Linked DNA regions of Homo sapiens. The protein of the gene in region 1 purifies or fractionates together with the protein of each later gene. This does not show direct contact. Each region holds a gene or a part of one and is shown in the gene's direction. Other genes may lie near its edges. The genes, in order: SPIN4, WDR76 and DIS3L2.

Region 1 (4,413 bases):
AGTTTACCTTCTTCCTTGGAATTACTATCTTGTAATATGGCATTAAAGAATTATCCCATCTCTGAAGTCCTTTGCCTGGGAAACATGGTGAACTGGAGGATCCTTACACATTCTGTGTGACCAGCTATTAAACAGAATGAGGACTAGGTCTCTCTGTCACTGACTTGGAAGGTAATGAAATGTTCAGGCAACCAGTATTGACACCTTGCAGCTTTTGCCCCGGTTTTGTTTCCAGGTGAATTAATTGCCTTTTTTACTCATGATTATATGACGCTTTCTCTTTTCACCAGTGAAGAGTAGAGGAATGAAAATGAGAACCCTAGACTCTTCTGGATTTTAATGTCATCTTGTAAGTGGGATATAGTGTTAAAAGCTTTACAGACATTCTCATTTAATCCTCATAGCAGCTCTGTGACTTAAGGTAAGTGAAATTATGGACACTTTCTTTTCTTGCAGGTTTTCGATATAAGCATGCAGCACTTTTATAATCAGAAAAACAGCAAATATATACACAAAAAATCCCTTCTTTCTCTCTCTACAAAATTAAGACCACAATATTGTTTCAATATTTTGCTTTTTCATTGTACTCATCTCATGTGCAGCTCTCCATGTCATTAAATCTTCTTTTAAAAAATGGTTTAGACAATAAATCCATTTATGAAGGTAAAATGTTTTTATTTATACTTATGTTATAGATCATGTAGGATAAATAGTGGACTATCAAAAGGAATATTACAAATATTTAATATTACTATTAAAAATCATGTTTTCAGAGTATTTAACAATCTTGGAAAATGTTCATGATATACATGAAAAACACAAGTTATAAAAGTATGAAATATGCTCCCAATTTTATAAAATATAAGTACAGGTTTATTAATAGGAGAGAAAACAGTATTGTTAACATTTTGGTGCAGTCTGGATGGTAAAATTAATGGTAGTTTCGTCTTTTATTTCACTGAATTTTAGAAGATCTCCACAATGTCAGTACATGACCTTTACATTCTGACAAAAAAAAAAAAAATAAAAATAATTACTAGAAATGATCAGGTAGAAAATATAAAACAGATTTTGGATTAAGATGGTGGTCTGTAAATTGTACACAGGGTTTTTATTCTCATCTTAAATATCTTAAACTGAAAGAAAATAATTTGTATGCACAAACTCTTTCTGGGTGTGCGTGTGTTTTACATTTTTTTTTTTTTTAAGTGAGGAATTCCTGGAAGACAGAAAGCAGATGGAGCCACTGTGTAGGAGGCTGGCGGGCAGCAGACCGCCAGAAAGGAGGAGGAGGGGAGTCGGCCTGTCTGGCTGGCGTTTGAGGGAAACGGTCGAGGGGCGGAGGAGGAAATGAAAGAGAGGGCGCGTGTGTCAATACAAACTGAACACGGGCACGCGCGCTGACCAGCCCGGCTGCCGCCCGCAGAGCGGAAGGCGGGATGGCTGGGGGCGGGGCCAAGGCTCAGGCGGGCTCAGAGGGGGCGGGTTCCCTGCGCCGCAAAGACCCGGTCGCCAGAGTGAAGCCAAGCCAGCTAGCGCTGCGAAGCCCAGGCCGCGCGGACTCCCCAGAGACTTGCCGCCGCCTGCGCCTTTGCCGCTGCAGCCATCCCTCTTACTCCTTGCCTTTCGTCCCCGTCGTCTCCTCTGCCGCCGTGCCGCAGCCGCACCAGCATCGACAACAGCTAAGTGGCCGATTCGGGGACTTGGGGTCGGGGTTGGGGCGGACGCAAGGCACGAACAGCACTCGCGAGCCCGCCATCTCTACGTCAGCCGCCACTGCTGCAGTAACCCTTCTAGGGCGAGAGAGGAAAGCACTGTGGAGAGGCACACGCTGTCCCAGTGCTCACGGTTAGAGTTCGAGCGTTTCTGCCAAAACCTTGGTGAGAGCCTTGCACTTGGAGAAGGGAGCACAGACCAGGTCTTTGAGATCGCAAAAAATATATATATCATATTGCATAGTGTTGACTTTTTGTCAGTTTAATCGACCAGGGCAGCAGCTTTCCCCAAGCCCTCTTAATCCCTGAGCTATGTCTCCTCCAACCGTGCCTCCGATGGGGGTAGATGGCGTGTCCGCATACCTGATGAAGAAAAGGCACACCCACAGGAAGCAACGGCGCAAGCCCACTTTCCTCACTCGTAGGAACATCGTGGGCTGCCGCATTCAACACGGCTGGAAGGAAGGCAACGAGCCAGTGGAGCAGTGGAAGGGTACTGTGCTCGAGCAGGTTTCCGTGAAGCCCACTCTTTACATCATTAAATATGATGGCAAAGATAGTGTGTATGGACTAGAACTGCACCGCGATAAGAGAGTTTTAGCGCTAGAGATCCTTCCTGAGAGAGTGCCAACTCCTCGTATCGATTCACGACTGGCAGATTCCCTGATTGGCAAGGCAGTGGAGCATGTGTTTGAAGGTGAACATGGTACCAAGGATGAATGGAAGGGTATGGTCCTGGCGCGAGCTCCTGTGATGGATACTTGGTTTTACATCACCTACGAGAAAGATCCTGTTCTCTATATGTACACGCTGCTTGATGACTACAAAGATGGTGACTTACGCATTATTCCAGATTCCAACTACTATTTCCCTACAGCAGAACAGGAGCCTGGAGAGGTGGTCGACAGTCTCGTGGGCAAGCAGGTGGAGCATGCCAAAGATGACGGGTCCAAGAGAACTGGCATTTTTATACATCAAGTGGTGGCGAAGCCATCTGTTTACTTCATTAAGTTTGATGATGATATTCACATTTATGTCTATGGTTTGGTGAAAACTCCTTAAATTCTTTGTGCTCTTTAGAGAAGTTGTGGATCTGTTAGATGTGAATTATTTTGTGTTCTCGTAGTTGTGAACGCAGAGAAGAGTTTAGGTGTCAGAAATTCAGGAAAGTGGATAAATTTTATTGTGCCAACAAATCTTACCTTGACTAGTTTCACAATTTTGCCTCAAGTGTACTTTGCTACTTTTGATATTGCCTTGTTCTGTAACTTAACAGTTAAATTGGGTGCTAATAGAAAATTAAAAAGTGTTTGCAACCATTGGAACAATGCAAAAATAGATTAAGAAAAATTAATGGTGTAAACCCACACCCCGTCCTTACCCCTTCCTTTCCTTACCTTGTTTCTTCCCAGAAAACAAGTGTTGAGGATGCGAAGTACATCCTTCCACCTATTTTCCCCATCTTCATGCAGAAAGTATGTTCTAGTAGTTTCTGTAAAAATGGCAAGCCACATGCTTTTCTCACTTGACATGTAGATGATATCTCTTCTTATCAGTAGCTTCAGTCTTTCTTGCTCTCTCTGGCTCTCTCTGGCCCTCACTCTTACTCTCTTGCACTCTTGCTCTCCCCCTCCCTCCCTTACTCTAACAGCTGAATACACAGTACTTGTTGATGTACCAAAAAGGCATTCAACCATTTCGTTATTGATCGTCTTTTATTTCCTTTTTTTATTTTTTTTCAAAATAACACTGCTGTAATACATACTGGTGCTTTTATTTATATAGGTTGGATTCCCAGAAATACTATGTAGGCATATGTTTCAGAAATATTACAAGATTACTATCCAAAATGAAAGCGCCCGTTCCAGCGTCCTCTCCAGCACTCTTTAATGCTTGAAAATATGAAAGGCTAAAAATTGCATTGTATTGCTTGTTAGTTTAATTGCCTTTTGTCTGAGTTCAAAGAGGTTTGTTGTTGTTGCTGTCCTTGTTTCTGTTTGGATTTTTCTCTGATTTGCCTGTTCTTACCCTTTGCTCATGTATCTATTGATGTTTTTCATTATAAATTTGTAGAAATTCTTACTACATAGTGCATATTAATCATTTGTAGCTCTAATGTGTTATGACGTTTTCATCTTGACTTTATTGATGATATATTTTCCTTTAAAATTTTTAAACTTTTTAGGTAGACCCTTATCTCTTTTATAGATTTTGGTTTCCTTTTTTTATCACATGGATGCCCCCACCCAAAGTCATACAAATATTCACCTACATTTTCTTCTAATAACTTTATTATTTTTAATGTTTAAATGTTTGATCCATCTGAAATTTATTTTTGTATATGGTGTAAGATGGGGATCCAGCTATAACATTTTGTTCACATTGGATACCTGATTGTGACATTTATTTAAAATGTTACCCATTTTCAAATTTCTGAGCCAATATCATGATTTAATTATAGTGGCTTCATCGTAAGTTTTAGAATCCGATAAAGCAAGTCCCACTTCATTAGTTTTTTTTTTCTTTATATAATATGTCCTAGACATTCATTTTTTCATGTGAAAAAATGAAATGCAGAATTTTAATAAAATTCTAATTATGATGGCTGACATCACAATTAAAATCCTGCATTTTTGTTTAGAGGGCTCTTTAATAATATTAAATCTTAGCACTCAAGAGTCTTCGTACATCATTGAAA
Region 2 (3,648 bases), on another chromosome or scaffold:
TGTCTGAATCCCAGCTACTCAAGAGGCTAAAGCAGGAGAATCGCTTGAACCCGGGAGGCAGAGGTCATGGTGAGCCAAGATTGCACCATTGCACTCCAGCCTGGGCAATAAGAGTGAGACTCCATCTCACAAAAAAAAAAAAAACAAAAAAAAACAACTATTTGCTGAAAGTCAAAACAGCTTATAAGTGGTAGCTTTAGGATTTGAACTCAAGGGTGTTTAAATTTTGAATTATCTCCATTGCATTTTAGCAGTGCTTACATATAAATGAAGAAACTAAAATCTTGGTATCATTAGCTCATTTGTTTAGTGCCAGTTCCTAATGAAATGTAGCTTCATTTACTTGGTTTGATTCTGTTACAGGACAATTAGCTTGAGAAAAGCTGGACCTTTAATCATGGCCAGGTATTTTCAAGTGTGAAAAGTTACTATAAGAGGAACATCATTAACACTGGAAAAACAGTAGCACTGGTCCTGTTGCCCGCTGATTAGTAGCTTTACATTTGCATTTTTTTATTAGCCAAGATTGGTGATTTCTTCCTAAATCACAAAATTCTAGCCCTTAATAGTTGTATAGGCAGTAGCAAGTTGATAGTATGGAAGTTGTGTAATGTAGCGCAGAAGTGTAGCCTTTGAGATTTAGCAAATTTGGGTTCAAGTTTTGATTCAGTCACTTACAGCTATGACAGTAACCTTGGATACTTTATATAATTTTTCTTTCTGTAAAGCTGGCATTATGCTAATCTAGAAGGATTTAAATTTTTTGAAAATTATTAAATATACATATAAAAAGGTACATATAATGTATTTGTGTAGTTGAAAAATTATACAGGTCCCATCCATGTACCTGCCATCCAGGTTAATAGAAATTACGAATACCCCTGAAGGCCCATATATACCCCTCCCTCCCGATACAACCACTATGCTGAATTTTGTGGTAATATTTCCTTGCATTTATTTATTGCTTTTTTTTTTTTTTTTGAGATGGAGTCTCGCTCTGTTGCCCAGTCTGGAGTGCAGTGGCGCGATCTCGGCTCACTGCAACCTCCACCTCCCAGGTTCATGCCATTCTCCTGCCTCAGCCTCCCGAGTAACTGGGACTATAGGCGCCCGCCACCACGCCCGGCTAATTTTTTGGATTTTTAGTAGACGGGGTTTCACCGTGTTAGCCAGGATGGTCTCAATCTCCTGACCTCGTGATCCGCCTGCCTCGGCCTCCCAAAGTGCTGGGATTACAGGCGTGAGCCACTGTGCCCAGCCTATAGTTTCATTTTTATTTATTTATTTTTTTGAGACAGAGTCTTGCTCTGTTGCCCAGGCTGGAGTACAGTGGTGTAATCTTGGCTCACTGCAGCCTCTGCCTCCCAGGTTCAAGCAATTCTCATGCCTCAGCCTTCTGAGTAGCTGGGATTACAGGTGCTCATGACCATGCTCTGCTAAATTTTGTATTTTTAGTAGATACGGGGTTTCGCCATGTTGGCAAGGCTGGTCTGGAACTCTGGACCTCAAGTGATCCACCCACCTCAGCCTCCCAAAGTGCTGGGATTACAGGTGTGAGCCACTGTGCCTGGCTATTGATTTATAGTTTTACTACCAGTGAGTGTATCCTTAAACACTATATTGTTTAGCTTTGTCTTTTTTTGGTGTTCACATACAATATGCCTTTTTTATATTCTGAGATTTTCTTATTTTGCTCATCTTTACATATTTATGCTTTTAAATTTACCCATGTTGATGCGCACAGCTTTATTTCGTTCTTTTTTTCTGCTATATGATATTCCACTGTATGAATGTACTACATTTTATTCTACTGTTGATGAACAATTGAGTTGTTATTTTTATTATGAAAAGTGCTGCTCCAAACATTCTTAAGTCTCTTAGTGCTTATGTATGGGAGTTTCTCTAGGAGTAGATTTCTAGGATTGTATGACAGCCCATATTATTCCATATACTCAGGTGTCTTTTTTGAGGATTAAATATGAGATGGAATGTTGACTACAGTTTTTAGTATATAGTATACTTTCAATCAGTAGGTTTTACTAATTCTCGAAGTAATGTGGACTATAACTGATAATTTTTTATGTGAATTTTTGGAAATAATTTCAGAGGCTTCTCTTTCCCCAACATTTTAAAATGAATTACTTTTTTAAAAATGAAAAAATAGTGCATAAAAAAATAGAGAATGTATATTATTTAAAAAGTAAACTACAGTGTATGGAAGGGAATGCAGTGAAACGTTTTAAGTTTCCTTCCTATTTTAGACCTTAGTTTTCCAGGCCTTTTCCCTAGAAGTAGTAGTTTTATGTGTATTCCTCCAAAGGTAACCTCAGCATGTACAAATGTATGTGTATATGTAACCTTTTTGTATACATGTACTGGACTTTGTTTTTGCTTTTTATAACCAAGGGTTCCTTTCAGCAGTGCATAAAGATCTATATCATTCTTTTTATGGCTGCGTATTATTCTATTAGATATGTATACCATAATTTAACAGACCTCACCTCTTTTTGATGAACATTTAGGTTTGTTTTTTCCATACTTCTTATTAAGATAATTGTGGCCATGTATATATATATCTATGCAGTTTATAAATATATCTGTGGTATATATTCCTAGAAGTTATCTCTTTAGTATTAGTAAATACATTTTATTGTTTTGTGAGTATAACATGAGTTTTTCCCCACTCCTTTAGAAAGAAGCCTAAGAGAGAAAATGGGATTGGATGTAGAAGGTCAATGCGATTACTAAAAGTTGATCCTTCGGGAGTTTCATTACCAGCAGCTCCAACACCGCCGACATTAGTAGCAGATGAAACTGTAAGGAAATGTGCAAATATAATATTTTAATGTAATAAAATACTGAAAAATTTGAAGTGTTGAAACTAGACTAAAAGTTCATTAAATTATGTTTAATTTTATATTTCATTAATACTTGAATGTTGTATGGTTTTGTTTTGTTTTTTTGAGATGGAGTCTCACTCTGTCGCCCAGACTGGAGTGCAGTGGCATGATCTTGCCTCACTGCAACCCCCTCCTCCCGTGTTCAAGCGATTCTCCTGCCTCAGCCTCCCGAATAGCTGGGATTACAGGCACATGCCACCATACCTGGCTGATTTTTTTTATTTTTGGTAGAGACGGGGTTTCACCATGCTGGCCAGGCTGGTCTTGAACTCCTGACCTGAAGTGGTCTGCCTGCCTCGGCCTCCCAAAGTGCTGGGATTACAGGTGTGAGCCACTGTGCCCGGCCCATTTGTACGCTTTAATGAGTAAGATTTCGAAGTCGTAAAGACTGTATTGGATTCTGTATTTCTGCAGGACTTACCTGCTTAGGATTGTGGGTGAGTTAATTAACCTTTCTGATTGTTTCTCCATTAAAAAAAAGTCAGCAATAATAGAACCCTCAGTAAATATGTACAATTTTATGTCAGTTTAAAAAAAAAACCTCAAAGAGCTACTGTAAAGATAAATGAAATCATATCTATAAAGTTTCTCACATATTAGGGGCTTAGTAATCAATAGAATATAGTTATTAATGTTAATAAATACGTGATAATGTGTAGTTTTAGTGAGTAGAGTTTTATTTAGCAAACATTTTCTAAATATTTTTTATTCAAGAACACCTATTTTTAATACTTTATATGTAAGTGTT
Region 3 (3,648 bases), on another chromosome or scaffold:
GCTGTCCCAGGGATGGCTGGGCCTGTGGGAAAGCCATGGTCCCCACCCATCCCACCCGACCCTGAGCCACCTCCACCAGCCAAGAGGGGCCAGGGCCCTTCATCAACCTCACCCAGGTCATCTGGGGAACTGGGCCACCACTGAGAACAAAGCCCAGACATGTCTGGGAGTGGAGGCTGTGCCCACCTCCCCCAGAGACTTGCCCCCGACTTAACCCAGGGCCCAGCAGGGGCTGGAAGGGAAGTGGAGTTAGGGAGCGGAGCAGGTCACCATCAGCTGCGCCCTGGATTCCAGGGCCCGTGTGCACAGAGTAACGGGAGCCGGCTGTCTGTCTGGCCAAGGGCACAGGAGGGTGAGTGTGTACAGCAGCCAGGGAGCAAGGGAGCCAGAGAGACATACAGGCGTGACCTTGGACCTCTGCGAGGAACCCGTTCACTCGCTCCCAGGCAGTAGCACTGGCCCTGACACCCAGCCCTGAAAGCTCGGGGACTGCAGGACAAACAGCTTCAGGGGCTGTGGCCCCAGCTGGGACGGGCTATGCGCTGGTCCCTAGAGACTCTCGGTATCTCCCCCTGCCCCAGTCCTGCCTCCTGCCCAGCACAAGGGCCTTTGGAACTCAGCCCTCTGTGTCTCAGCCCCCGGGAGGGTCAGGTGTCAGAGACGAGAAGGGCCGAGGCTGGCAGGCCGGAAACTGCCTCCCTTGACTGCTGTGGGGTGGAGTATTGGCGAGCACAGAGGTGCCCGGGTGAAGCGTGGCTTCAGCTGGGCGGGATCAGTGCCAGAGGGGATGAGGACGGCCCCGACCAAAGGTGGGCCTAGGCTGGAGAGGAAGCTCCAAGAGCCTGAGGCCCGTATTGCACAGGGCAGGGGATCGCATCCTGGGCTTTCTCTCCCTCCTCCCACTCTGGCCAGATGGGAGGATGGACGTTGCCTCCTTGAACAAAGACCCACAGGCTCCTTGGCTTCTGCTTGTGTCTCCAGCAGACAGCGTCTGCAGCCCCTGGTCCAACAAAACCGCAGGCGGCCTCCTCCTCTTCCTCCTCCTCATTGTCCTCCTCGACCACCACCACCTCCTCCTTCCACCACCTCCTCCTTCTCCTCCTCCGCTGTCGCCTCCTCCTCCTCCTCCTCCTCCTCCTCCTCCTCCTCCTCCTCCGCTGTCGCCTCCTCCTCCTCCTCCTCCTCCTCCTCCGCTGTCGCCTCCTCCTCCTCCTCTGCCTCCACCTCTGCCATCGCCACCTCCTCCTCCTCCTCCCCCACCCCCCGCCGCTACCTTTCTTTCTTCTTCCTTCTTCCTGGGCGAGAGTAGCAGCCCCGGCCCCATGCTGGGGAAGGGTAGGCCAGAGACTCTTCCCTCCTGGTGGTGCTCAGCAGTGACTCAGCAGGGACTGGACTTCGGAGGCTCAGCTCGTGCCCCCTACCCTGACAGCATCCTGGGGGTTCCTGGCTCCCTGGTCCTCAGCAGGGTGGGCTTGTCCAGGCCATTCTCAGTGCTGCCACCTTGAGGGCATCTGGGAGGCCCAGGCAGGCCAGATTTGTCTCCTGGAAAGGACATGGGTACCCCTGGGCTCTGCCCAGCCTCCTGGCCTCCCCCTGGGGCCCCTTGTGCAGCAAGGGCCCTGGCCCCAGTCCTCCCTGGCGTCACTCAGCAACCAGCAGCCCATTAGGTCTGTCCACACATCGCTGCCGACGGTGAGGCTGTGGGTGGTGCCAGCCTTCCAGGCCTGGCTGGGCAGCTCTGGGCTTGTCAGGCTCTGACCCATCCCGTCCCGCAGATGGCACTGTACTTCTGCTCGGGGCTGCTGCAGGACCCAGCGCAGTTCCGGCACTACGCGCTCAATGTGCCCCTGTACACACACTTCACCTCGCCCATCCGCCGCTTTGCCGACGTCCTGGTGCACCGCCTCCTGGCTGCCGCGTTAGGTGAGGGGTGCAGTCGGGGTCAGGGCAGACCTGGGCCAGCTCAGGGCTGCCCACCCCCACAGTGGGTGCTCAGTGGCCCAAGACCATTCTGCCGTGACAGCGGAGGTCCAAGGGTCGGGCGACCCAAGTGCAGGGGAGCCTGGCCTGGAAACTCTCCCTACGGGCCGGTGCTGCAGAAGCTGCATGGAGCCCACAGCCAGCCCTGGACACAGCCGGGAGGAGGGCGCTGACCTCGAAGGGCCGCTTTCTGCTGCCCTGGGAGCTGGGTGCTTGGGGTCCTAATCTGTCGGCGGGGGTGCAGCGCCATGCAGCCCATCCCCCAGCCATAGCTCTTCCCAGCCCCCCAGGCTCCCACTCTCATGCCTCACCCCCTCTTCCCAGGCTATAGGGAGCGACTAGACATGGCGCCCGATACCCTGCAGAAACAGGCGGACCACTGTAACGACCGCCGCATGGCGTCCAAGCGCGTGCAGGAGCTCAGTACCAGTCTCTTCTTTGCTGTTCTGGTCAAGGTGAGCCCTCCAGCCTGGTGCCCCTCACCTCCCTCTGGCTCCCGACCCTCCTGGGCACCTGCTCACCAGGAGGCCTCGAGGAGCCCAGGGCAGTGCCAGGAGGTGCCATGGCTGCAGCACTGTCCCTGCAGGAGAGTGGCCCCCTGGAGTCAGAAGCCATGGTGATGGGCATCCTGAAGCAAGCCTTCGACGTGCTGGTGCTGCGCTACGGCGTGCAGAAGCGCATCTACTGCAACGTGAGTGCCCTGGGAGAGCCCGGGGGCGGGCAGGGCAGCCCAAGCCATCCCGCACTGGAGGGGCACAGGCTGTGATGGGTCACACTCCACCCCTCGCTCCCCCAGCCCTAGCACAAAGCCCACCTGATGGGCCTTGCTGAGACGCCCAGCTCTCCCACCTGGGATGGTGGCTCCAGGCCCAGGGTCAGGCCTGGCCCCCTTCCCCAAGGACCCAGGAACCAGAGAGCAGGCCCCTCCATGGCCAGTACAGCTCGGCAGGGTGTGCAGGCTTTGGGGACTGTGTTTATAGGAACGTGAAGGAATGAAAGGCCAGCGAATGGTCCGTGGCCGCTTTGGAAACTGTGTCCCCTGAAGACAAGGAAGAGAGCTGTCCCTGGCTCGGCTCCTGCCCTGAGTGACTGTTGACTCACAGTTCTCTCTCCAAGGGGACATGGGCCTGTCCTAATGCTGCCTTAGGGGCTTGGCTCCAGCTGGCCCTGGGGTCTGCAGGTCACCACCTGCCTCTGTGCCTGGCTTTGAATTTCCTAACATCCAGAGTGCCCTGGGAGTACAGTGTCCAGCCCGTTGTGTGCAGTAAACGTGGTGTTCATAACCGGGAGCTGGGCAGAAGAGGAACGACAGAGTCCCCCTGCGGACCCTGGGGGCTCTGTATCCTGAAGTTCAAGCCTAGCTCACCCTGCTGTGGGCCCAGCCCTGCCTGCACTGACAGATGGCACCAGCAGGGGGCGCAGCGCTCCGCCGCCACAGTTCTCTGTCCCCACCTCAGTGCAGTCAGCCCTGGACCCCCCACCACTTGCCCCCCATAGCACACAGAGCCACGGGCCTTCCCAGCCCCCACCCCTGGCCCTTGGTCACTCTCACCTGCTGCCTCAGCTGAAGGTGGCCTGGCAGGGCCTCCCTGAAGCTCCCTCCAGCCAGGCAAGGGTGGGCCAGGGCCGAGGGCTGAGGGCCGCCTCCAAGCATTGAAGCCCTCCAGG

Evidence for each region.
Region 2: the proteins of SPIN4 (region 1) and WDR76 purify together in Homo sapiens (co-immunoprecipitation; one large-scale study listed by IntAct). This does not show direct contact.
Region 3: the proteins of SPIN4 (region 1) and DIS3L2 purify together in Homo sapiens (co-immunoprecipitation; one large-scale study listed by IntAct). This does not show direct contact.

The regions. Positions count from the first base shown.
Region 1 is NC_000023.11:63,348,434-63,352,846, reverse strand, and holds the start of SPIN4 (spindlin-4), read left to right. Parts: upstream 1-1,514; 5' UTR 1,515-2,027; coding exon 2,028-2,777; 3' UTR 2,778-4,413.
Region 2 is NC_000015.10:43,836,913-43,840,560, forward strand, and holds part of WDR76 (WD repeat-containing protein 76), read left to right. Parts: intron 1-2,692; coding exon 2,693-2,816; intron 2,817-3,648. UniProt on the Homo sapiens protein: Specifically binds 5-hydroxymethylcytosine (5hmC), suggesting that it acts as a specific reader of 5hmC.
Region 3 is NC_000002.12:232,332,065-232,335,712, forward strand, and holds part of DIS3L2 (DIS3-like exonuclease 2), read left to right. Parts: intron 1-1,775; coding exon 1,776-1,923; intron 1,924-2,304; coding exon 2,305-2,435; intron 2,436-2,566; coding exon 2,567-2,671; intron 2,672-3,648.